7 linked regions of the Homo sapiens genome follow. The protein of the gene in region 1 interacts with the protein of each later gene in a biochemical or structural test. Each region holds a gene or a part of one and is shown in the gene's direction. Other genes may lie near its edges. The genes, in order: USP15, RIGI, USP8, CDC73, JOSD1, FHL1 and STK33.

Region 1 (3,500 bases):
TTCATTACAATTTTTTTTGTTTTTTAGTACAAAGTGGTTGTCCCCAAAATTGGAAACATATTAGATCTTTGTACAGCATTGTCTGCTTTGTCAGGAATACCTGCAGATAAGGTAAGATGTTTCTGGGGTTGAAGTATATAAGTTGGTATTTAGTTTCTCAGTGCTGTAAAACCAGCTTAATAGAAATTCGTTTCCTTTTAGATGATAGTTACTGATATATACAATCATAGATTTCACAGAATATTCGCTATGGATGAAAACCTTAGTAGTATTATGGAACGGGATGATATTTATGTGTAAGTATAAAACTCATTGTGCAAAATATTACTTGAAAAAAAATTAATAGAAGTAACATAAAATTTTGAGAGTTTATGGTCAGTTTTGTCCTTGTAGGTTTGAAATTAACATCAATAGGACAGAAGATACAGAGCACGTGATTATTCCTGTTTGCCTAAGAGAAAAATTCAGACACTCGAGTTATACCCACCATACTGGTTCTTCACTTTTTGGTCAGCCCTTTCTTATGGCTGTACCACGAAACAATACTGAAGACAAACTTTATAATCTCCTGCTCTTGAGAATGTGGTAAGTGCCAGACAATTCTACATTGACAAAATAAATATGGGAATAAAATATAAAATAGCTAATAAAAATAAACACATAAGGTACTATTGGAATATAATTATTCAAGTCTGTATTATCTCAATTTTGTTCATAGTCAGATTATAGTCCTAATCCACTTTCTTATTCATGTAAAACATATTATGGAGGTAATTTCAAACCCAGGAAGCACGAAGTCTGTAGCAGTTTTAAACCAAAAGTTTACAGTTAGAAGGACATAGGAATTTATGTTATAATAATTATGTGTTACATGTTCATTCTGTGAAATCATAACAAATGTCAAATGCCATATGTTTGCACTGTGAAATAACAAATGTCAAATGCTTCATTTCTTTATATACATTACCAGTTCATGATTAATAGTATTGTAAGGCAGCCTATTTTTTGCCTTCCTGAATAAATCCCTTGATTTGAATTATGAAGTTATCAAGAATGTCATTTGATCCCTTTTATCCTTGAAAGCTGGTATATTTAGTATTCTTTCTTGCATATCTAATTATTATAGTTTCATAACCCATATATAAAGATCACATTATACAAATATAAGTGTTTTTAGCAACAATATATACCATCTAAATAGGGTAAGTTGAGAAATTATTTGCAACAAACATTTAACATTTAACCTAAAAGGTAACATATTAATTATTTTTATAAAGATGAGCAAAACAAATTACTAGTCAGTTATACTTATGGTACTAAAAGTTTGAATTTATCTTTGAATCTACTAAGTGACCACTGTTACTGCATTAAAAAGTTTTGTTTTACTGATAGAAGGAAAACTTTTTAAAAGTTTTTATCTTTGTAGTACTGAACTTGTTTGATTTTTGATTTTACTTAAGCCGATATGTCAAAATATCTACTGAAACTGAAGAAACTGAAGGATCCCTACACTGCTGTAAGGACCAAAATATTAATGGGAATGGCCCAAATGGCATACATGAAGAAGGCTCACCAAGTAAGACTTTTCTGTTAAATTGTACAAATGTTTCACTTAGATAATTGCCTCAGAGAAAAAGTTAAGAAAATGGGAATTAAAGAACTAAAAAATACCTGGAAACCTAGGATTAATAATATTAATAATTTAAAAATATAGCATTGGGTTTATTTAAAGCTCTCTAATATCTAAAATTAGGTGAAATGGAAACAGATGAGCCAGATGATGAATCCAGCCAGGATCAAGAACTTCCCTCAGAGAATGAAAACAGTCAGTCTGAAGATTCAGTTGGAGGAGATAATGATTCTGAAAATGGATTATGTACTGAGGATACTTGCAAAGGTCAACTCACGGGACACAAAAAACGATTGTTTACATTCCAGTTCAACAACTTAGGCAATACTGATATCAACTACATCAAAGATGATACCAGGCATATAAGATTTGATGATAGGCAGCTTAGGCTAGATGGTAAGTATTTGTGAAAAATGGCTTGAACATTAAACAAGCCGAGCATGTTATTTTTTTTTTAGGTGAAAACCATGAAATTCAGCTCTGTCAAGAAATATACCATTTACTTTTCTATCTCAAATTTTACATGAAAGGACTTAATATCTAAGTAGACTAAAATGTGTGTTTGTGTTTCATAAATGGAGATTGAACTCATGCTTCAGTTTTCTATCTTTTTTTAAACTCTTAAATTATTTCAATGGCTTGGAAACTGCTGTTTGCCCTAATCACCAGTACAAGTAGAAAAGATTGCTGTTTGTTTATTCTGGTGTATATCCTAACATTAAAATATACTTTAATACTAAGACATATTAAATTTTAAAGAAAAAATATGTTTTCCACCTTAGAAAGATCTTTTCTTGCTTTGGATTGGGATCCTGATTTGAAAAAAAGATATTTTGATGAAAATGCTGCTGAGGTAAGTCATCACTCACTCACTTATTTACCTTTCCTTGATTTACTTTATGTGATTACCAGAGATAATCATACTGTTGTGTTACACTCTTTGCTTCCACCAAATATGTTTATTTTGCCAGTAAAAAATTGGTCATGAACTAGAAAAAAAAGTCTTTGCAAAAATACCTTTTTTTTTTAAAGGTTCAGAGTTCATTTTGAACGTGTTTTGGTCATCCATATAGAAGTGTACAGGAATTATTTAGAAGTATATAAATCTCAACTGAAATAAGCTTTATGATTCTTTTGAGAAAGTTTAGGAGTTTTCATTATTATTCATAGTAAGATGGTATCACTAAAATGAGTTTTGTTTCATTTGTTCTCTTAACTCAAGAAATACTTCTCTTTAGGACTTTGAAAAACATGAAAGTGTGGAGTATAAACCTCCTAAAAAACCCTTTGTGAAATTAAAAGATTGCATTGAACTTTTTACAACAAAAGAAAAGCTAGGTGCTGAAGATCCCTGGTAAGAGACAAAATTAAATAATTGTTTTTGTTTTCTTTAAGGATTTATTCTGAGATATGTGCCACATCAAGTTGAAAAAGTAATTACTAAATTCTCTTTGATGTTTTAAATAGTAAAGGATTCTTTATATAAGTTGTAGCCTATTAAGAGGGATGGGAATGTCTTAAAAAATACGATTACAGTGTTGCCTTAATTTTATTACTGTGTTTTTCATAATAGCCATTATACTATTAATTCATTTTAGTTACCTTTTTTCCAAGAAATTTTAGCTATGTAATCATTTTGAGAGAAGCTTTTTAGGAAAAATGTAGTGATATATTTTGTGGTGTTATTCCATTAGAGCCCAGATTTGAGATTTTCTAATACCTGTCTTCCAGCACAGATTTGTGACCTATGTCTTTTTTGCATACTAAAAGAGAAATAATCTAGCCCTCATTATGTCTTTAAGTATTTATTTGTATATTAATTTGTAATGGTTTAACCTATTTGGAAAATGTCTTGAAAATAAAAATAATA
Region 2 (2,697 bases), on another chromosome or scaffold:
CAGAATCACGGAGGGAGGCAGAAGGCACTTCTTACATGGCAGCGGCAAGAGAAAAATGAGGAAGAAGCAAAAGTGGAAACGCTGATAAACCCATCAGGTCTTGTGAGACACAATCACTATCATAAGAATAGCACAGGAAAGACTGGCCCCCCATGATTCAATTACCTCCCCCTGGGTCCCTCCCATAACACGTGGGAATTCTGTTAAGATACAATTCAAGTTGAGATTTGGGTGAGGACACAGCCAAACCATATCAGGGGCTCTTCTGCCTGTTGTATCACTCACTGAGTTTGTGCCTGCAAATGGATATAATTATGCCTGAAACAGCGCATATTGTATATCTGGTACAGGTTTTGTTTTTTTTCCCAAGTTTTGCCAAACACTAAAGTAGAAAGCATAGTTCATATGACTATTCTATGGACATCTTTAGTGCTTTTATGAGCATTTTTGATGAAGAAATTGAAAGACTAATTGGAGGCCACAATTAAGCATTGACTAATACTAAGTTAGGAGAACCAATAAAATCTGTGATTTTACAAAGTCAGGTACCATATGTTCATGGAAGTTGTATATGAATGATTATACATGTGCGTGCATGTATATGTATTGTACGTATCTGTGCCTGTTTCTTGCTATATATGTTGTACTCAAATTACATTTGCGGTCTTTCTTTTTGCATTAGATTCTGCATATACAGACTCATGAAAAATTCATCAGAGATAGTCAAGAAAAACCAAAACCTGTACCTGATAAGGAAAATAAAAAACTGCTCTGCAGAAAGTGCAAAGCCTTGGCATGTTACACAGCTGACGTAAGAGTGATAGAGGTAAGCTGCCTTTTTACAAAGTGCCTGGTCATGTTTTAGCACTAGCTACAGCTTACTGTTGGTGAAATATTTATAATAAAACTACTATTATTTCCATTGTTACTGTGGCCATGATCTGTGTATTTAAAAAAAGCTAAGAAGTGAAAAAAAAATACTAAATGTTCAATAATAAAGAAATAGTTTTTGGCCAGGCATAGTGGCTCATGCCTGTAATCAAAACACTTTGGGAGGCCAAGGTGGGCGATCACGAGGTCAGGAGTTCGAGACCAGCCCGGCCAACATGGTGAAACCCCGTCTCTACTAAAAATAAAAAAGTTAGCTGGGCGTAGTGGCAGGTGGCTGTAATCTTAGTTACTCGGGAGGCTGAGGCAGGAGAATCGCTTGAACCGGGAGGCAGAGGTTGCGGTGAGCTGATATCGCGCCACTGCGCTCCAGCCTGGGTGACAGAGCAAGACTCTGTCTCAAAAAAAAAAAAAAAAAAGTCATGCTAAATGCAATGACGTGTCCTGGATTAGCTCCTGGAACAGATAAAGGATACAACTAGAGAAAGAGTGGTAAAATCTGTAGTTTAGATAATAGTAATGTACTGATGTTAATTATCTTGGTTTTGACAAATGTGCTGTGGTATATGAGATGTTAACATTTGGGGAAACTGGGTAAAGGGTATGCAGAAATTTTCTGGGATATCTTTGCAATTTTTCTTTAAATCTAAAATTGTTCCAAAGTAAAGTTTATTTTAAAAAATTATGAAGTTTATGTAGTATAATGAAAAACTGCTTACAAACTAATGGTAATAAGGAAAAAAGTAACCAGAACACAGAATTGTAAAGATGCTACTTTGTAGCTGTGTGAAACAACAGCAGCAAATACATTCATTGTCATTGTCAAGAGAAAAAGTCAAAAAACCTACCTTGCTACAGAAAAACAAAGGCTAGGGGAACTATACCAAAATGTATTAATATTTTGGTGGTGAGATTCCATGACTTTTTTTCTCTTTTCCTACTACCTTATGTTTTCCAAACATTCCTTTTGGGCTATGGATCACTTTTATAATGAAAACAAAATATCTCCTTATTTGTAAAATGTGACATCTGCAGATTAGCCTTCTATTGCAGCCTTATATTTCTTTCTTAAAACTTTCAGAGAAAGGGTTAGAAAAATCTCCAAAGAGAAATATGGGGTATAACTCTTGCATGGGGGGCACAGTGGAGGGGCTGGGCTGGCTCAGATGAGGAGTTATTACTTCAGGATGTTCCGTTCGTCTTCAGAAAGCAGAAATCTCTCATCAGCTCAGCTGTTTGGGCAAAAAGCCTATTAGGAGTCATATTGCTAAGTTCCCTTACCTTTCTAAGTCTGCTTCTTTAGCTGTAAAAGGTCCTTTCAGCTCCAATTTGGGTGATTGTTCTACTAAAAATGGCCCTTTTAGACCCTATGTTTTCCTGAGGGACTAGTATGTTGGATCTGCATTTGTTTCTGAGCTGTTTACTCTAAAGTTGACTCTAGGTGGGGCCTGTGGACACATTAGTCCCTGACCTTCTTCAATTGCATCTTGACCTTGGTCGTTTTCCCTGTATCCTTTGGATTGTGCCTGCCAGGGCCACTGGTGAACTTCAGCTTCACAAATTTTCAGCAAACATCGCTTCTGTTTTTGAATAATGAGTATCTACCTTCAGAAGCTGGGTTACCTGGAACCTTCTTAATCTTCTTCTTTATGAGGTGCCCAGTGTCCTCACTTGCAACCCCACCCTGCCTGTAGAGGGGAGTCAGGTGCATGGATCCTCTGGACTTTGGGTGAATCTATTTTTTTTTTTCCTCCAATTGTAAAATAAGTGAGACCCACCTGTTCTTTGCCTCAGATTATTGTGGGGTTT
Region 3 (3,500 bases), on another chromosome or scaffold:
ACAGTTTTGGTTGTTACAACTGGAAGGGAAGGATGATAGTAAACTGGCGTCTAGTAGAGGTTAGGGATGCTGCTAAACATCCTGCAGTGCACATTGCACAGAGCAGCCTCTCACAACAAATGTTTATCTGGTCCAAAATGTGAGTGATGGCAAGGTTGAGAAACGCTGCTGTAAACTGATCAGTTTTAAACTGCAGTATTACTTTTTTTGTTAATAGCACTACTGCTCTTCATATTTTGCAGGGTACAGTGTGTGTGCCTCTGTGTGTGTGTGTGTGTGTGTGTGTAAGCAAGAGAAAATACTGTTTCGATCAACCAGTTACCAAAGCATGTTTCTACCATTTTGTGTTCTTTTCTGCAGTGACCTTGTAGTTACTCTTTTCCATAGTATCATTCCCTTGTTCTCATCTCCTTTCAATCTTACTTACATATCCCTAATTTGACCATCTTGAGATAATATTTTTCCCATCAGGAACTGGCTTTTATTGCCTGCTGAATCAAATATAAAGAATTCTGGATGGCTTCCAAAGTCTTCCATAATGTGACTCCATCTCCTACATAATATAATTTAGTTATTCTTGTTAGTCAACATTTTTTTTTCCTTTTAGTTAAATTCAGCTGACAGGGAGAAACATTTATTAAAGTGGTGACTATGTGAGGACTATTGAGATAGGTGCCAGGGATCCAAAGACATGTCAACATTTTCCCTCTATCCGATTGATTATTTCCCAATAACTTCTGTAATATTCCTTATTATTACTATTTTTTCCGAGATGGAGTTTCACTCTTGTTGCCCAGGCTGGAGTGCAGTGGTGCGATCTTGGCTCACTGCAACCTCTGCCCCCTGGGTTCAAGAGATTCTCCTGCCTCAGCCTCCTGAGTAGGTGGAATTACAGGCGTCCACCACCATGCCCAGCTAATTTGGTATTTTTAGTAGAGACGGGGTTTCTCCATATTGGTCAGGCTGGTCTTGAACTTCTGACCTCAGGTGATCTGCCTGCCTCAGCCTCCCAAAGTGCTGGGATTACAGGTGTCAGCCACCATGCCCAGCCAGATGTCCTCCTTTCTTACCCTGTTCTTAGCTAAATTCTGTCCTCAAGGCCAGGTTCTCTCTCTCATCACATCATCATGAGCACTGCGTGTGTATGAGGATTTTAAAGCCTTATAGTAATTGTCTGTTGATCCCATTACTGTATTTAAGGAATGATATAGATCACAAGCATTGTAGGATTCACATGAAGAAACAAATTCCAAGAACTGGGACCATAAAGGATGGAAGAGATGGAACTTAAGTTTGTTTCTTCTTGTAGCTGAGACCTCAGATGTGCACCACTACGCCCAGCTAATTTTTAAATTTTTTGTAAAATTTTTTGTCTTTACTTTGTTGCCCACTTTGTTGGCTACCTACCATTTCTCCCTATCTCTGCCCTTTAGGCAACAACAATACTCAACATAAATATCTGTTCTTGAACTCCTGGGCTCAAGCAGTCCTCCCACCTCAGTCTCCCAGAGTGTTGGGATTACAGCTGTGAGGCACCACGCCCAGTCAGTGCACTGCTTTTTGCATGGAGAAAGTCTTGCTGCTACTTTAAAAAGGTCAGTGTGCTTAATTGATCTACATTCTGTCACAAACTTCTTATTTTATCACAAACTGATAACAAACAGTTCCCCAATCAGCACTGGTCATTGGACCATACTTGGAGTTACATTGCTGTAGTGTGAGACTTTCATACTTTTTTTAAAATTGTCACCTGTATTAAGAAATACATTTTACATTTTCATCCAGTGTTATATCATATACACATGTACATAACTGAAACAATTTTACGAAGCAGTACCTAACCTTACTATGTGTGACATAGTCTGATGTTTGCTATTTTTTTAATGCTGATCATGACCTTCTAATGGATTTTAAAAACACTGCCCTCAAGCATTTAGCACAGTGCTAGAGACATAGTAGTTGCTCAGAAAATACCATACATTTTAGCAGTGATTAAATCTTGAGAGGGTTGAGCCTTCTTAATACTTGAGGATTACTTTAAAATGTTATTTCATTGGCCGGGCACGATGGCTCACGCCTGTAATCCCACCACTTTGGGAGGCCGAGGCGGGCGGATCACCTGAGGTCAGGAGTTCGAGACCAGCCTGGCCAACATGGAGAAACCCTGTCTCTACTAAAATACAAAAATTAGTGGGGCATGGTGGCGGGGCGCCTGTAATCTCAGTTACTTGGGAGGCTGAGGCTGCTTGAATCTGGGAAGTGGAGGTTGCAGTGAGCCAAGTTCATGCCACTGCACTCCAGCTTGGGCGACAGAGTGAGACTCCGTCTCCAAAAAAAAAAAAAGTTATTTAATCAATACTTAGTTGTTTGTGGCACCTTATACAGAACGAGTGTAGAGTGGATTATGAGATTTAAGACAGCGAGAAGATACTTATGTTGAGTATTGTTGCTGCCTAAGGGCAGAAATAGAGAGAGATGGTGGGTGACCAACAAAGACAACTTTTGCTTTCCTTTCAATATTGCCAAAGACCTTAGGAGTGGCTGGTGTGAATCCCTGCTTAAAATCAGGACCAGTTTGAATGACTGCAAACCTCATTTTTCACTTTTTACCTTTTAGTCTTCACTTTGTGGTTCCAGTCATCAAATCCCTACTCTTTGTCTTAGAAAGGAGCAGAAGGATGTCAGAGAAAGAACATTTTCTCTTTATTTATTTATTTTTTTTTGAGATGGAGTCTCTGTTGCCCAGGCTGCAGTGCAGTGGCGCGATCTCAGCTCACTGCAAGCTCCACCTCCCAGGTTCGTGCCATTCTCCTGCCTCAGCCTCCTGAGTAGCTGGGACTACAGGTGCCCGCCACCGTGCCCGGCTAATTTTTTGTCTTTTTAGTAGAGACGGGGTTTCACCGTGTTAGCCAGGATGGTCTTGATCTCCTGACCTCGTGATCCGCCCGCCTTGGCCTCCCAAAGTGTTGGGATTACAGGCGTGAGCCACTGTGCACGGCTGCATTTTCTCTTTGTTAACTCATTTTCAACACTTTTGGGTTTCACTTTTGGAGCACTGCTGTTTGACTAAGGCTGAAGTTCTTTGTCAGGTTTACACATCTTAAGAATTTTTATTTTTTGTTGTTAGAAGCATGTTAATTTTTCTTGCATATACTTAGTTATTTTTTTTTCACTTGCAATCCTTCTTGAAGCATAAGGTTTTTTGTTTTGTTTTGTTTTGTTTTGTTTTGTTTTAAAAGACAGAGTCTTGCTCTGTCGCCCAGACTCCGCTCACTGCAATCTTCACCTCCTGGGTTCAAGCGATTTTTCTGCCTCAGCCTCCTGAATAGCTGGGATTACAGGTGTGCGCCACCACGTCCGGCTAATTTTTGTATTTTTAGTAGAGATGAGGTTTCACCATGTTGGCCAGGCTGGTCTCAAACTCCCGACCTCAAGCAGTCCACCTGCCTCAGCCTCCCGAAGTGCTAGGATTACAGGCCTGAGCCACCACGCCCGGCTGC
Region 4 (3,500 bases), on another chromosome or scaffold:
AAGTTGTTTATATAAATGAATCCAGCCTGAAGAGTTGAATTAGAATTGTCAGTAAAAAAAATCTTGCCTTAATTATTTCAGGACTGGAAAGGAAGGCCAACCCAGAGAGTACTACACATTGGATTCCATTTTATTTCTACTTAATAACGTGCACCTTTCTCATCCTGTTTATGTCCGACGTGCAGCTGTAAGTAGAATTCATTTTACTTATCTATCTATTTATCAGTTTTATTTTTATTTATTTAAGAGACAGGGTCTGGCCTTGTTGCCCGGGCTAGGGTGCAGTGGTGTGATCATAGCTCATTGCAGCCTCGAACTCCTAGGCTCAAGTGATCTTCCCACCTCTGCCTTCAAGTAGCCAGGACTGCAGGCCTGTGCCACCGTATCTGGCTAATTTTTTTTGTTGTTGTTAAAGATGAGGGGGTCTTGCTGTGTTGCCTAGGCTGGTCTTGAACTCCTACCCTCAGTGGATCCTCCTGCCTCGGCCTCCCGAAGTGCTGGGATTACTGGCATGAATCACTGTGCCTGGCCAATAATTCATTTTAAAACTTTTTTTTTTTTTTTGAGATAGGATCTGGCTCTGTTGCCTAAGCTGGAGTGCAGTGGTGTGATCTCGGCTTACTGTACCCTCTACTTCTCGGGCTCAAGCCAGCCTCCCACCTCAGTCTCCTGAGAAACTGGGACTATAGGCATGGCCCACCATGCCGGGCTAATTTTTGTATTAACACATTTTTTTTTTTTTTGGCTTCGTGGTAGTAGGTATCATTTGGAATGGATAGCTTCCCTCATGGGTTTCAAATCAAAAGAATGAAAGGTTTGTATGAGTGTCTCCAGGAGAGTCAAAATTAGGTGACTGTGTGACTTACACAGACTTTTTAATCTGTGATATTTTTTCATGTAAAGTGTGGGTAATGTTTATAACAAAGGAAGTTTTAAAGGGATTTATAGAGCCAGGCTTCTTAGTGCACGCTGGTAATCCCAGCTACTTGGGACTCTAAGGCGGTAGGGTTGCTTGAGCCTAGGAGATCAAGACCAGCCTGGGCAACATAGTGAGATGCCATCTCAAGAAAAAGAAAACCCGAAACGCTAAAAGTATTTATAGAGATGTTTAGAAAAACTTGTAAGCCTGTGGAAGGACCCTGTTACTTCAGAACTCTAGTTTAATCTCAAGAAAACTTTTTTTGGTTGTAAGGATTAAGATTAGCAGACATTTAAAAAAATTGTTTCTTAATCAGTTTTGTGCAGCTGTTTTAGTACTCTGGAGAAGTTCATTTGTTTTTAGTTTTGCTTGCTTTCTCAGTGTTTGAAAATTTATTACTCAGAGGAAATATTTGGAAACAACTTGAAAAGAACTAATTTCATAAACTATGATGATGAGATTCTTCATCTGTAGGGAAGTATCATTAAGACCTAAATTATAGCAGTATATTATAATTGATAAGTAAATAAGATTCAGAGTTATTTGGATAGGATAGCTGTATGACATGGAAAAGTACTATAATGCCCACATAAAATGGCCTAAAAGATATTTAATTTTTTTAAATGAGCTTTTCCCTCAGATTATTTTTGGTAGAGTTGAACATAAAATTTTTTGAAGATATAATTGAAATAATTAAATGTCTGCTTTTAATATTTGTTGCTTTTGCTTACAAGTATACACTTAAAATTAAGTATGAAATGTATTTATAAATAACTACTTTTTCCCATTTCTTATAGTTCTTAAAACAATCTTCTTAAACTTTTCTTATAGTTCTTAAAACAATTTTTTAAAATATCACTGTGTCTGTCATCACTGGAGCTGCTTTTTGAGTTACCTAACACCGTTGCTGGATCACATTAAGCTGTGTGAAACTTAACTTCTATAACTCTAACCTCCCTCCCAACTAGAAATAGTTAAGGTTTCTGGCTTATGTATCTTTCAAACAATAACTTGTTGTCTAAAGCAACTAAAAGCCAGGTGTGGTGGTGCATGCCTGTAGTCCCAGCACTTTGGGAGGCTGAGCTCAAGTGGGAGGATCACTTGAGCTCAGGAGTTCAAGACCAACCTGGGCAACATAGGGAAACTTTGTTAAAACAAAAAATAAAAAAAATTAGTCAGGCGTGGTAGTGTGCACCTATACTCCCAGCTGGCTACTCAAGGGGCTGAGGTGGGAGGATCACTTGGGCCCAGGAGGTTGAGGCTGCAGTAAGCCATGATCACACCAATGCATCTATCCTGGGTGATAGAGCAAAGACTCTGTCTCAGGGAAAAAAAAAAAATGTGTGTGTGTGTGTGTGTGTGTGTGTGATTATAGCAATTGAGAAAGTATCCCGTCACTTAGTGGGCTTTGTATTAAACCATAAGGCTTCTGCTTTCCTGAGTAAGAAATATATATTTATGTTACATATTTAAAAAAATAAAATTAGAGTGGGACTACTTGGGAAAATAAGGGGAAAAAAATAGCACCAGCTCCGTCTTTAAGGTTATTTTAACTCAGATCTTTAAAAACTAAATTAGGTAGTTCTTACAGTGTTTTGTTGGATATATTCATTTTAGTGTAACAAAGATTCAGATAGTTGGCTTAGATTTATAGATTCTGTTTTTGGGAAATGGTTGTGCATATAACTGATAGCTGTAATTGTTACTGTGGACCTTGGGACCCTTGGTTGCATAAGATTTAACTCATTTTTCATAAGTATTTGCCAGATTGAAAGAGTAGGATTCTAAAATTCCAAAATTCTATGAATTCGAGATTGTTGTCTCCTAATTACTTTGTGTTATTTGCTCTTTCCTGTGCGCAGACCACTCATTTTTTTTTTTTTTTTTTTTGAGTGCAGTGGCGTGATCTCGGCTCACTGCAACCTCCGCCTCCTGGGTTCAAGGGATTCTCCTGCCTCAGCCTCCCAAGTAGCTAGAATTACAGGCACACGCCACCATGCCTGGCTAATTTTTGTATTTTTAGTAGAGACGGGGGTTCACCACGTTAGCCAGGTTGGTCTTGATTTCCTGACCTCGCGATCCGCCCGCCTCGACCTCCCAAAGTGTTGGGATTACAGGCGTGAGCCACTGCGTCCGGCTGAGCAGACCACTCTGAAAACAGATTCCTGATCCTTAGTTCCTATTTTAGTGTGAGTAGATGTAATCTTTTTCAGTGGATTGTGATGTGTACATAACTCAGTAGTGACCAAATGATGATGTAAGTTATTAGACTTAGAAACAGTAACTTAAAATTAACTCAAATCTTTTAACTGTTTATGATATTCCATATAGACTGGTTTATTTTTATTTTTTATTTTTTTTTGAGACAGAGTCTTGCTCTGTCACCCAGGCTGGAGTGCAGTGGCAGGATCTTGGCTTGCCACAGCCTTACCCTCCCGGGCTCAAGTTGTCTTCCTCCTTCAGCCTCCTGAGTAGCTGGGAGTATAGCTGGGACTGCAGGCGCTTGCCACCATGCCTGGCTAACTTTTATATTTTTGTAGAGTTGGAGTTTTTCCATGTTGCTCAGGCTGGTCTCGAACTC
Region 5 (3,500 bases), on another chromosome or scaffold:
GAGTCTCAAGAATACTTTCCACTGGAATCATCAGGATCCCATGGAACTCAGTGGGACTGGTGTGTTGAAATATCCAGAGCACTCTTCAGTATTGTCTTAGGGTAGAGGCTGACCCTAGCCCTGCCACTCACCAGCTGTGCCTGACTGTGCAAGTCACCATAACCTTTGCACCTCAGCTTCCATGTTTATGGTATCTCAAGATGGCTGGAAGTGATAAAGCCCATAAAAGCAGCTAACACAGTGGCCACTTGATTACTGTTAAAAGTACAAGCAAGTGCTGGTGTGGTGAATACGCTGGGTGGGCCCCACTTATTCAAATGACCATTCCTCTAGCATGAGATGGAAGCTACTCAATATTTCCTGTATTCAAATTGCCTAACGTGTTTATTGAGTTGCCAGTGCCTAGCTGTGAGGGATATAGAGTAAAAAACTATCCAGGGATTTAGTGTTTGATTGAACATATATGAAATAACTGAATTCTCCAACAGTCCTATAAAATAGTAATTATTTCCATTTTTACAGGCAAGGTAACAGGCATGGAGATTAAATCCCACAGTTAGTGTTGATCGGTGCTAGGATATGAACTCAGATATGTATGGTCCTCACTCTCCCTCCCTTTTTTACAGAGGATCCAGGGAAGATCCTATGGAAGAGATAGGGTGTGAAGGAGCTGTAGGATTTGGCTTGGAACAGGAAATAGGATAAAAGAATAGAGGCTGCTGGGCACAGTGGCTCAAGAGGGAGGCTGAGACAGGAGAATCAGTTGAGCCCAGGAGTTTGGGGCTACAGTGAGCCACAATCATACCACTGTAATCCAGCCTAGGTGACAGAGGAAGAAAAAATAGAATAAAGGCCATATGATCATGGTGCCTAAAGTGCACTAAGCCCAGTGAGAGGGATATAGCTGGCCAAGTGGGGCCAGGAAGTGTAGAACTGGCCAACCAGGCAGTTGGTACCATTGTCAGTTCCTATATATACAAAGGGAAGTGAATTGATGCCTTGGTGAATTTGGCAGGAACATAGAGGCTGAATTGGTGGAAGGAGCGCTTGGAAGCAAAGTGATCAATTTTTAGGAATCTGTTTCAGAAGTCAAGGTGTGAGGTAAGGAGCCTCTGGTTAGGAGAGAGATGGAGTGGTAATAGGAAAGGATTTGAATCCAAGACAGAAGATGAAGGACAGGGAAGAAAGATCATTGGAAAGCTAGTTCTGTAAGGTACACCTCAAAACAAATGTGTGGTCAAATTTGTTTGGGAACTGAAGCATATTTTATAATCCCCTTTCCTTGAGATTCAAAGTGAAGATTAGCATGTTAGGGACTCCAAGAATTCTGCAGGAAACCCATTTACCTACTTGGTTCATTCAGCTGTTATTGTATTGGATGCCTTCTGGGATCCTCTGTTAATGAACATGGAAATGGCATCTCCAGGAGCACCCTTGGGAAGCGCCGCTCTAAGGTTTGAGCCTGGTAGGGAGTTAGATGGTGAATGAGGTGGAAGACTCAGCATTTTCCTTGTTGGAGCCTTCATTCATGTACTGGTCAGAGACTTCAGTGAAAGGAACAAGAAACTTGGGAAAGGAACCAATTATATCAGGGGCTAGGCCTTCTTTCATATGTGTTCTGTTCTCTTTTTTTCTTTCTTTTTTTTTTTTTTTTTTTTTTTTGAGACAGAGTTTTGCTCTTGTTGCCCAGGCTGGAGTACAATGTCATGATCTTGGCTCACTGCAACCTCTGCCTCCCGGGTTCAAGCGATCCTCCTGCCTCAGCCTCCCGAGTAGCTGGGATTACAGGCACCTGCCACCACACCTGGCTAATTTTTTTGTATTTTTAGTAGAGATGGGGTTTCACTATGTTGGCCAAGCTGGTCTCAAACTCCTGGCCTCAAGTGATCCTCCCACCTCGGCCTCCCAAAGTGCTGGGATAACAGGCGTGAGCCACTGCACCTGGCAGTGTGTTCTCATTTAATCCAAACGTGTGAGTACCCATGGAGAGCCTTTGTCTTTTTAAGCTATGTTTCATCCCTAGTCCTCAGGGATGTAGCTGGCCTCTCTTCTTTTCAAGCCCCCATCCCCTGCCACTCTGATTCTTGGGTCCTTGCTGTAAGACAGCAAGCATAACTTTGGATTCAAATGAATCCACAGTGGAATCCTAGTTCTGTCACTTGCAAGTGCTCATGGGCAGGTCAGTTAAAACCACCAAACCTCAGTTTTATGGACCTATACAATAGAAATAATTCATATCCTCATAGGTTTATTGTGAAGATTAAATGAAATGCAAATTAAAGTACCTTATCATAGTGCTTGGCACAGAGATTTTTCAATAAGTTATAGTTATTATTACAGGTAAGATAAAGTTTGGTTGCAGATTTCTTTGCTAGCCCTGGAGATGAGCATATAAGCCCTTTTAAGAGTCAGTTACTGATGTTTACAGGGAAAGAGAAGGACAACAAAAATAAACACTGAACATTTCAGCAAACATTCCTTGAGCACCTGTCTTGTGCCAGGCACTCTTTAGGCCCCTAGCAGTGTAGCGTTCACAGATAGTCAAGGCCCCTGCTGTCAGTCTAGTGTAGAAAAACAGACCAATGAGAAACACATCTGGTAGTGACAGGGCTGTAATTAAATCAAAAGGTTGATGTGAGGTAGTGACTGGGAGAAACTTATGGTTGGGTGGTCAAGAAAAGGCCTCTCCGGAGGTTGTAGTAAGCTGAGATCACTCCATTGCACTCCAGCCTGGGCGACAGAGCCAGACTCTGTCTCAAAAAAAGAAAAAGAAAAGGCCTCTCTATGGCAGTAACATTTGACACCCAAACAATAAGGAACTACAGAAAGAACATTCTAGACAGCGGGAACAGTGAGTGCATGAGTGCACAGTGAGAAAAAGAGCTTTGTTTTTAGGGAACAGTAAGAAGGTCAGTGTAATAAAAGGTAAGAGATGAGATCTGCAGGACCTTGAGGGCCTTGCATGCCAAAGGAAGTAGTTTAGAGTGTATTTAAGTGCTTTAGGTGCCATCAGAAGGTTTTAAGCAGTGGCAGGAGTATGTTTGTTGTTTTTAATTCTGTGGGTTTTTTTTTTTTTTCTTTTTTTTTGAGACAGGGTCTTACTCTATCACCCAGGCTGGAGTGCAGTCATGGCTCACCACAGCCTTGACTTCCCTGGCTCAGGTGATCTTCCCACCTCAGCCTCCCGAGTAGCTGGGACCATAGGCACATGCCACCATGCCCGCCTAATTTTTGTATTTTTTGCAGAGACAGTGTTTTGCCATGTTGCCCAAGCTGGTCTCTAACTCCCAGGCTCAAGCGATACTCCCACCTTGGCCTCCCAAAGTGCTGGGATTGCAGGTGTGAGCCACCACTCCCGGCCAGGAGCATGGGGTTTTGTTTTGTTTTGTTTGTTGGTTTGTTTTTTGAGACGGAGTCTCACTCTGTCACCCAGGCTGGATGCAGTGGTGACATCCAGCCTCTGCCTCCTATGTTCGGCTCACTGCAGCCTCTGCCTCCTA
Region 6 (3,500 bases), on another chromosome or scaffold:
TCTGACATTTTCAACACCCTTTGTTACTTCTATCTTCACTGGTGAGCTGTGGATTATTTTATCATCTGGATGCTTAGAACTCTGAGCAAGTCATGTTCTAGAACTATGAGACTAAACAATGAAGAACTTTGCACTGGTAATATCAAAGTACTGAAAGTGTGTGGTTTTAAAGTGTGAAAAACATGGCAGTTAAGATCTCTCAGGTACTTTGAACCATAATGCAGTTTTCCTTCTCTTCAAAACCTCTACTTCTAAATGGCATTCATTGTGTTTTCTAGTGTTTTTTCTTTGGTATGACACTAGTTAACCTGTATTTCTTACCATAAAGCTAGGACTCAAATACTAAGAGGTTTGACTCACCTTAGGTGGAACTTTATATAGTACTTTAACTTAGAAATATTTGGAATCAATTTCTGCTTATAAAGGTATCAAAAGCAAGTGATACTAAAACGAGTAGGTTCAAAGTTGTATACTAAATAGAGACCTTGGTAAGAGAGAATGAGGGATTTTCAAATATGGTCCAGAAGATAGTCTCTGAAAGGCTAAACCAGCAATGGTTACTAGCCATGCAGGAAGCCAGTGCTGTCTAATCTTACAAATTCTGTTTTCCTGCCAAATGGCATTTAGGAGCAACTGATAATTTATTTCTTGCCACTTGCCGTTACTGGAGATTTATTTGGTTTCTCAACTCAGCCCTTAACAAGAAAGCAAGTCTTTGTTGAGGGCACAATATTATCAGTATGGCAAAGCTAAGACGAGGCTTCTGTGTGACACTGGAAAGACCAACAAGAATGGATTAAAGAGAGTGATTTTCCATATGCTGTCACTGGGACAGGTACTTTTCTCTGTAGACACACAGGCTAAAAGCAGTTTAAAAGCTTCCTTACCTAAACAGTACATAGTTCAAGGAGATAGGCCCTGTGTCCATTGCGTCTCTAGTTTTTGTTTCTAACCCATTATATAAAGAAACATCCCAGTTTGCTTTTTAGAGAAAAGTTCAAGTTAGAACCATTCTCTGGTCTTGCTAAGTCTCTTAATTGTGACACAACTGTCCTAAGCAACTGTCCTTGCACAAGAATGTCACTCATCTGCTTCATCTGCCAGCTCCTTAGAGATGAGGGGGGTCTGTGTGTCAGCAGGAGGCAGAAGGCCCTGTGGCTCATCCAGTGGCCTGATTTCCTTTGTTTGGAGGCTTGGTTCTGAGTGAGAGTTCAACAGCCTTTGCCCAGGCGGCTTCTCAAACACAGGGTGTGGTTTCCTTAGCTCACTCTCTGCTGTTTGGTTGCTCATGGCAACAAGATCCAAATAACTTGGACATGTGTTTGTATAAAAAAAACCTGGGAATGGAACCCAAAGTGAGACTTTGGGGCTTTCAGTTAGTGGAAGAGCTGCGGTGAGTACCAGGCAACTGCTCATTTATTTTCTCTCATTCTTTCTCTCTAAATTACGCTGGAAGTTTGCTAGCACAATAACCATGTTTGTGGATAGTTTTAGAAAGTAGTCTCAATTCTTGTATTTCCTGCACAAATGAAATAATTGCTATCTATTTACCCGTGCAAATTTCTTTTTCGGGGGAGAGGAACAAATTAGCATATGTTTAAAGAAGTTGAAAGCTAATAGAAACTCATATTTGGTACCTTTTGGGTGGCAGGATTCTATAGGAAATGCCTTGGCAAAGGGAGCTGCAGAGTGCCTTAGTAATGCTTGGGATTGCAGGCGTGTTGTCTAGGGCCACAGCCGGGGAGGGGACCAGGGAGGGAAGAGGGGTTGTTCATACGGAGGGAGTGGAAGGGATTCTTGGAATAATTTTTTCCAGACTCTATTTTAAGATTATAATTTTTAAGACAGCAAATATCCCAAATGGTAATACTGGTTACACTTCTATGAGCATATTGATTCTCACTTGCTTGACTCAAGGGAGGGTTTGATTTTGGTCACAAAGCCACCCGTGACTATGACAGATAATTCAAGGTTGCCAAACTTGCCTGTGCCAATTGACAAAGCCATTTATATAAGTCCTCTCTTGCTATATTGCTCTGGCCTCAAAAGGCAGTAAACTCTCTTGGACAAAACTCTTTAGGATCTATTCAGGGATTTAACACTTTTCTGCTAAATTGCAAGTAAATTTAAACATTTTAAACAAATTAACAAGGATTGCTTAGGTACCTGGTGTGGTACAGAATGAGCTGTCAGTTTCTATTCTGATGAATAGAATTTTATAGATAGGAGGAACGGGAGGCCTCCAGAGGATACTACCCTCCCTAAAAAGAGACGGAGGAAGAGCTGAAAGCGGGCAGAGAGGCTTCTTGATGACAACGTGGTGGGCTTAGAGAAGCTGCTGCCTGCAGGCGGGGCCCCTGCTTTCCTGCACCCCTTTGAGCCTCTGCCCCACACTCTTCCTTTGTATAAAACAACTGCTTCTTGCCTGCCTGCCCCATCACACCCCTCCACTCCATCGGGTCACTGCTCAATGGCACAATAGCACTGCTCAGCCATACCTCCCAGCATCCTGTCCCCTATCTGGTGACTTGGCCAACACAGGCTCTGATCCACTTGCCCCGCTCCGCATCTTTTGTGAATCAGCACAGTTGATATATCTGAGCAGGGGCTTCTACCATCTCCCCAGGGAATCACTAGCCATCGGCCATCTGGCCCCGCGGGGTGCTTTTGTTCCTGGAATCATAGTGAAGTATCTGTTGTCTTGGTGCCTGGTAGTCAGCTCGGCTGAAGGGGAAGCTGGGTCTTGGTCCTCAGACCCCATGGACTCCAAGGCAGCATTGTGCAGGTGCCTCTGGGAGCCACTGCTCAGGGTGCTGGGGCATTTCCTGTGGTCATTTGTCCTGTCTGCTTGCCCCCGCAGGTCCCTCCAGCTACAAGGTGGGCACCATGGCGGAGAAGTTTGACTGCCACTACTGCAGGGATCCCTTGCAGGGGAAGAAGTATGTGCAAAAGGATGGCCACCACTGCTGCCTGAAATGCTTTGACAAGTTCTGTGCCAACACCTGTGTGGAATGCCGCAAGCCCATCGGTGCGGACTCCAAGGTAACGGGCATCCCCATGTGCCAATGGGAAGGGCTGGGTTTTGGAGTGTCCTTTGCCCACAACCATGGCAGCAGCAGCTGGCTGTTAGGATTTCCCAGCATCACTGCAGCCACCTTGAGGCCTCAAGGAAGCCTCCTCCACTCCCCAGGCCACAGTGGCCCGAGCTGTTTAATGTGGGGCTTGACTGGATGGGCGCCAGCGCCCTTGCCAGCTCTTTTGATTGCATTCTAAATATTTCAAGAATTGTGAGATTTTTATCCTCACCTCAGCGTCCCTCCTATAAGAATAGTCACTGTGGGGCAGTCCCAGGTGTAAGGGACTGTGTCATCTCAGTGGTCAGTCCCAGGGAAATCAGCCTTATGGGAGGGCTCCTGCCACCACCCCCAGCACCCCTCATGGTGGCCCACCCTGTCTGCTTGGTTTCCAGGAGGTGCACTATAAGAACCGCTTCTGGCATG
Region 7 (3,500 bases), on another chromosome or scaffold:
GATGTTGGCCAGGATGGTCTCGATCTGACCTTGTGATCCACCCGCCTCAGCCTGCCAAAGTGCTGGGATTACAGGCGTGAGCCACCGCACCCGGCCTCTGTTCTCGCTTTTAACTGTCAGTATAGGGGCCACATTTAAGACTGTCCTTCCGTATTACTGCTTAATCAGTGAGGAACATCATGCAAATTAAAATAGAAAGGAAAAGTTAATAGTAAACATCACTCAAACATTTAAAAAAATTCTGAAATAATGTGAATTTTAAATATACTGTAAATCCTTTTATAAGACAATACAGACTCATTTTCCTAATCATGCCCTTAATGAAAAGAATAAACAAGTGCTAGTCTTCCTTAAAATATAGCAATATCATCTAGAAAACTCACTGGGCCCTTCTTTAGGCTTTGTAAACATGTTACTAAAGCAGTCAGTCATTTGGCTTGGTCTGCAGAATGTCAGACAATTCGTAAGTTTTTTTTTTTTTCCCCTTTACTTGAATAAAACACATTTTGACTGAATTGACTATTTAGGTTTCTTGTAGACACAGTCTTAGCAAAGAAAACTAAAAAAATTGCTTTTGGAGAAGAAAATTATAGCTAGTTATATCTTATAAAACCATTCTTGTGTTCATTTTCTTGAGGAAATTGCTGTAAGTGTATCTTCTAGGGCCAATATGTAAAAGACCTTTTTATGATTAAATTAAAGCCCAGGGATTTTCATTATCAGAATTGTTTTATTGACTTGCCTTAGTTCTAAAAATAAAATGAAAACCTTAAGCCAAAGGAAGGCTCATGTATTAGTTAAGTACTGACATAATTTGAACTTATTTTATTTGCTTATATTATGTCCAGTACCTATGTATGTCCAATCTTTGGAGACACAAAGAAACATTATTGTATTAGAAGATTCTTTGGTTTTTGTAATACATATTTTTATATCTAAAGTCCTGTTTAAACATAATTCCATGATTCTATAGAAAAAGAGCTATTAATCTTTGTGTTTACATAAGTTTGCAATACTTGATTAATTTTAAGCCTCTAAAATATGAGTGACATCATTTGTCCTGTGAAATAGTAGATTTGTTTTAGTAACAAATCTTTCAGATCAATTCGTAAATGAGAAAGAAATAAATGTGAGTAAACATTTGTTCTATCTTGGTTTTTGTTTAAACTAAAATAATTAGAATTCAGCCAGCCAAAAAGAAGTTAAATTTGAAATCTAATTCTTGTCAAGAAATTTTGCATGCAGCTATTCAACCTGTTGTTTTAGAATTGCTGTGGTAAGAAAGTAGAACATTATTTTGGCAAATATAGCACTTGGTAGACTGGAGAGCAAAAATGAAACTTCTCAGTGAGTAATAGAAAGAAATCCTATGCTTTATGCATATAGCTACCAAGTACTTCTAAGGCAACTGATAAATTAGAAGACTGGAGCGAGAAAGTACTCAGAAGTCTGTGACAATGTCAGTGATATGATAATGACTTATTGAAAAATTGATGAAAATTAAAGGAAATGCTTTCTGAACAAAGCTAAGAAAAGAATAGCTGTTTTTAGATCCCCCAAAATCTATCTTAAAATGAAAATTTTAATATTTAAAGATTCCATTGAAAATTTGTGAATATATATATTTGTAAACCTTGAAGGATATGGTAAGTATGCTTTTAGGAGTACTGTTTATCATGAAAGAACTCAGCTGCAGTTAAATAAACCTGTACGTTACGAATACTTCTTACAATTTCTTATAAAAAGTACCATAAAATCAATATTCTTAATGTATGCAAAAAATGATGTTTTACACATCTGACATGGGACTTCTCTACACCTCAGAGAGAAAGCACTATTTTTCCCAAACAGAAAGCCTATCATTTGCAGATCTACTCCACTGCTCTGAGTCATTGATGGTTATGGGTTTTATATTTAACCTGAAATGCAAAACATTTTCTTCTAGGCCTGAAGTTAAATCATTTTGGAAAGTGATACAGGTACATTCTGAATTTTCTTTGTCTTGCTACATATTCTTGAAAAACCAGGTTAAGTGTTTATAAGAGATGTGTATGTGTGTGTGTGTGTGTGTGTGTGTGTGTGTGTGTGTATTTTGAGTGGCATCAGTTGCATTCTTTTCTTCCTCTGCCTGTCTGGAGGGCACTTTTAATGTACCTGTCCTCATACTCTCCATTATGAGTTTTAATCACAATAGAAATTTTTTTCCCACCACTTTGATGAAAGGTCATATTTATTGGGCAGACTTATCTATTCTATTTAATAATCTTATAATATACTATATACATTACCTGGGGTAAATGTAAGTACAGCATTTAGGATTTTAAAATCTATTTACAAATGAGACTGACCTGTAAATCCCCCTTTTGGGGAATACTACTATGGTCAGATTTTGGTTATTTTAAGTGAATAAAATGAACCGGATGGCTTTGCATGCTCTGAAACCATTTATATAAGAATCATCTGTTCAATAAAAGTAGGAGAGGACTCTGCTATGAAACTTCCTGAGTGAAATGATAAGTGGCATGAAGAAAAACAAAGCAAGGTAAGGGGGGAGAGGGCATGGGCTTGTTGTTTTAGATGAGGTGGTTAGGAAAGCCTTTCAAATGAGCAGAAGCCACAGTGAAGCATGGGAGCAGACCGTGTGAATGTTTGAGGGAAGAGCATCCCAGGCAGAGGAAGCAGAAGGGCAAAGCCTTGAGAAGGGAGTATACTTGGCATATTAGAGGAGCAGCAAGAGGCTACTGTATCTGAGAGAAAGGAGATATGAAAGCTGAGAGGTAGTGAAGAGTACGTTTATTTGGGACCGTATAGGCAAAATTCAACAAAATTTCTTTGTCATTTCTGTTTCTTAAGCTTACTCTTTAATTATGTTTTTCTATCTTTTAGATTTGACTGCACACTTAGTATATTTTTATCCTTTCTCCTCTGATTTTAATAAAGGTTTAAGAATATAAATTTTCTTTTAAGTGCAGCTTTGCCTGCATTCTGTTAAGCTTAATGGCCATAAGTCACATGGCTACCCCTAATCTAAAAGAGAAGCCCGGAAATGTAGGATGTTAATGAGCACATTGCTGCCCCAAAGAAGATCAGGATTCTGTTAGTAAGAAAGAATGAGAGGACAACTTTTAGGTAAACTACTAGCAATATCTTTTATAAAATCGTATGAGCCTGGCAGATTTTCCTGCCAATCACAATAGATAAGGATTTGATAAAAGCACAGCTTTCTGATTAGAAAACCAGGTATTTCTTTAATGAAATAAATATATTTAATTTCCTATTCTAGTCAAGTTTATTCCAGTTCAAAGGATAACAGTATATTGCATATATCCCCAGGTTTATCAATCTATGACTACAGAATCTACTTTTAAAGACTGTCTGAAATGGTATAGCATAAAACCATAATAATGTACTCCCAATTACTTCTGGAAGTTTCTCAAAGTACTCCTTTATATGTACTGCAGAGTGTATTTTTCTTCCTCCTCAACTGAGATCTTTCCAAC

What was found.
Region 2: the proteins of USP15 (region 1) and RIGI form a complex in vitro, tested with the Homo sapiens proteins (one study listed by BioGRID).
Region 3: of the proteins of USP15 (region 1) and USP8, one has a biochemical effect on the other in vitro, tested with the Homo sapiens proteins (one large-scale study listed by BioGRID).
Region 4: the proteins of USP15 (region 1) and CDC73 form a complex in vitro, tested with the Homo sapiens proteins (one study listed by BioGRID).
Region 5: of the proteins of USP15 (region 1) and JOSD1, one has a biochemical effect on the other in vitro, tested with the Homo sapiens proteins (one large-scale study listed by BioGRID).
Region 6: the proteins of USP15 (region 1) and FHL1 form a complex in vitro, tested with the Homo sapiens proteins (one study listed by BioGRID).
Region 7: the proteins of USP15 (region 1) and STK33 form a complex in vitro, tested with the Homo sapiens proteins (one study listed by BioGRID).

What each region holds. Positions count from the first base shown.
Region 1 is NC_000012.12:62,389,404-62,392,903, forward strand, and holds part of USP15 (ubiquitin carboxyl-terminal hydrolase 15), read left to right. Parts: intron 1-27; coding exon 28-111; intron 112-201; coding exon 202-296; intron 297-379; exon of another isoform or gene 380-393; coding exon 394-585; intron 586-1,460; coding exon 1,461-1,576; intron 1,577-1,753; coding exon 1,754-2,026; intron 2,027-2,412; coding exon 2,413-2,483; intron 2,484-2,852; exon of another isoform or gene 2,853-2,868; coding exon 2,869-2,984; intron 2,985-3,500. UniProt on the Homo sapiens protein: Hydrolase that removes conjugated ubiquitin from target proteins and regulates various pathways such as the TGF-beta receptor signaling, NF-kappa-B and RNF41/NRDP1-PRKN pathways.
Region 2 is NC_000009.12:32,457,500-32,460,196, reverse strand, and holds part of RIGI (antiviral innate immune response receptor RIG-I), read left to right. Parts: exon of another isoform or gene 1-682; coding exon 683-826; exon of another isoform or gene 827-1,155; intron 1,156-2,697.
Region 3 is NC_000015.10:50,430,905-50,434,404, forward strand, and holds part of USP8 (ubiquitin carboxyl-terminal hydrolase 8), read left to right. Parts: intron 1-3,500. UniProt on the Homo sapiens protein: Hydrolase that can remove conjugated ubiquitin from proteins and therefore plays an important regulatory role at the level of protein turnover by preventing degradation. Converts both 'Lys-48' an 'Lys-63'-linked ubiquitin chains.
Region 4 is NC_000001.11:193,125,031-193,128,530, forward strand, and holds part of CDC73 (parafibromin), read left to right. Parts: intron 1-81; coding exon 82-187; intron 188-3,500.
Region 5 is NC_000022.11:38,690,944-38,694,443, reverse strand, and holds part of JOSD1 (josephin-1), read left to right. Parts: intron 1-3,500.
Region 6 is NC_000023.11:136,203,547-136,207,046, forward strand, and holds part of FHL1 (four and a half LIM domains protein 1), read left to right. Parts: intron 1-1,355; exon of another isoform or gene 1,356-1,393; intron 1,394-2,860; coding exon 2,861-3,042; intron 3,043-3,469; coding exon 3,470-3,500.
Region 7 is NC_000011.10:8,475,729-8,479,228, reverse strand, and holds part of STK33 (serine/threonine-protein kinase 33), read left to right. Parts: exon of another isoform or gene 1-1,945; 5' UTR 1,946-1,979; exon of another isoform or gene 1,980-2,477; 5' UTR 2,478-2,542; intron 2,543-2,556; exon of another isoform or gene 2,557-3,129; intron 3,130-3,500. UniProt on the Homo sapiens protein: Serine/threonine protein kinase required for spermatid differentiation and male fertility. Promotes sperm flagella assembly during spermatogenesis by mediating phosphorylation of fibrous sheath proteins AKAP3 and AKAP4.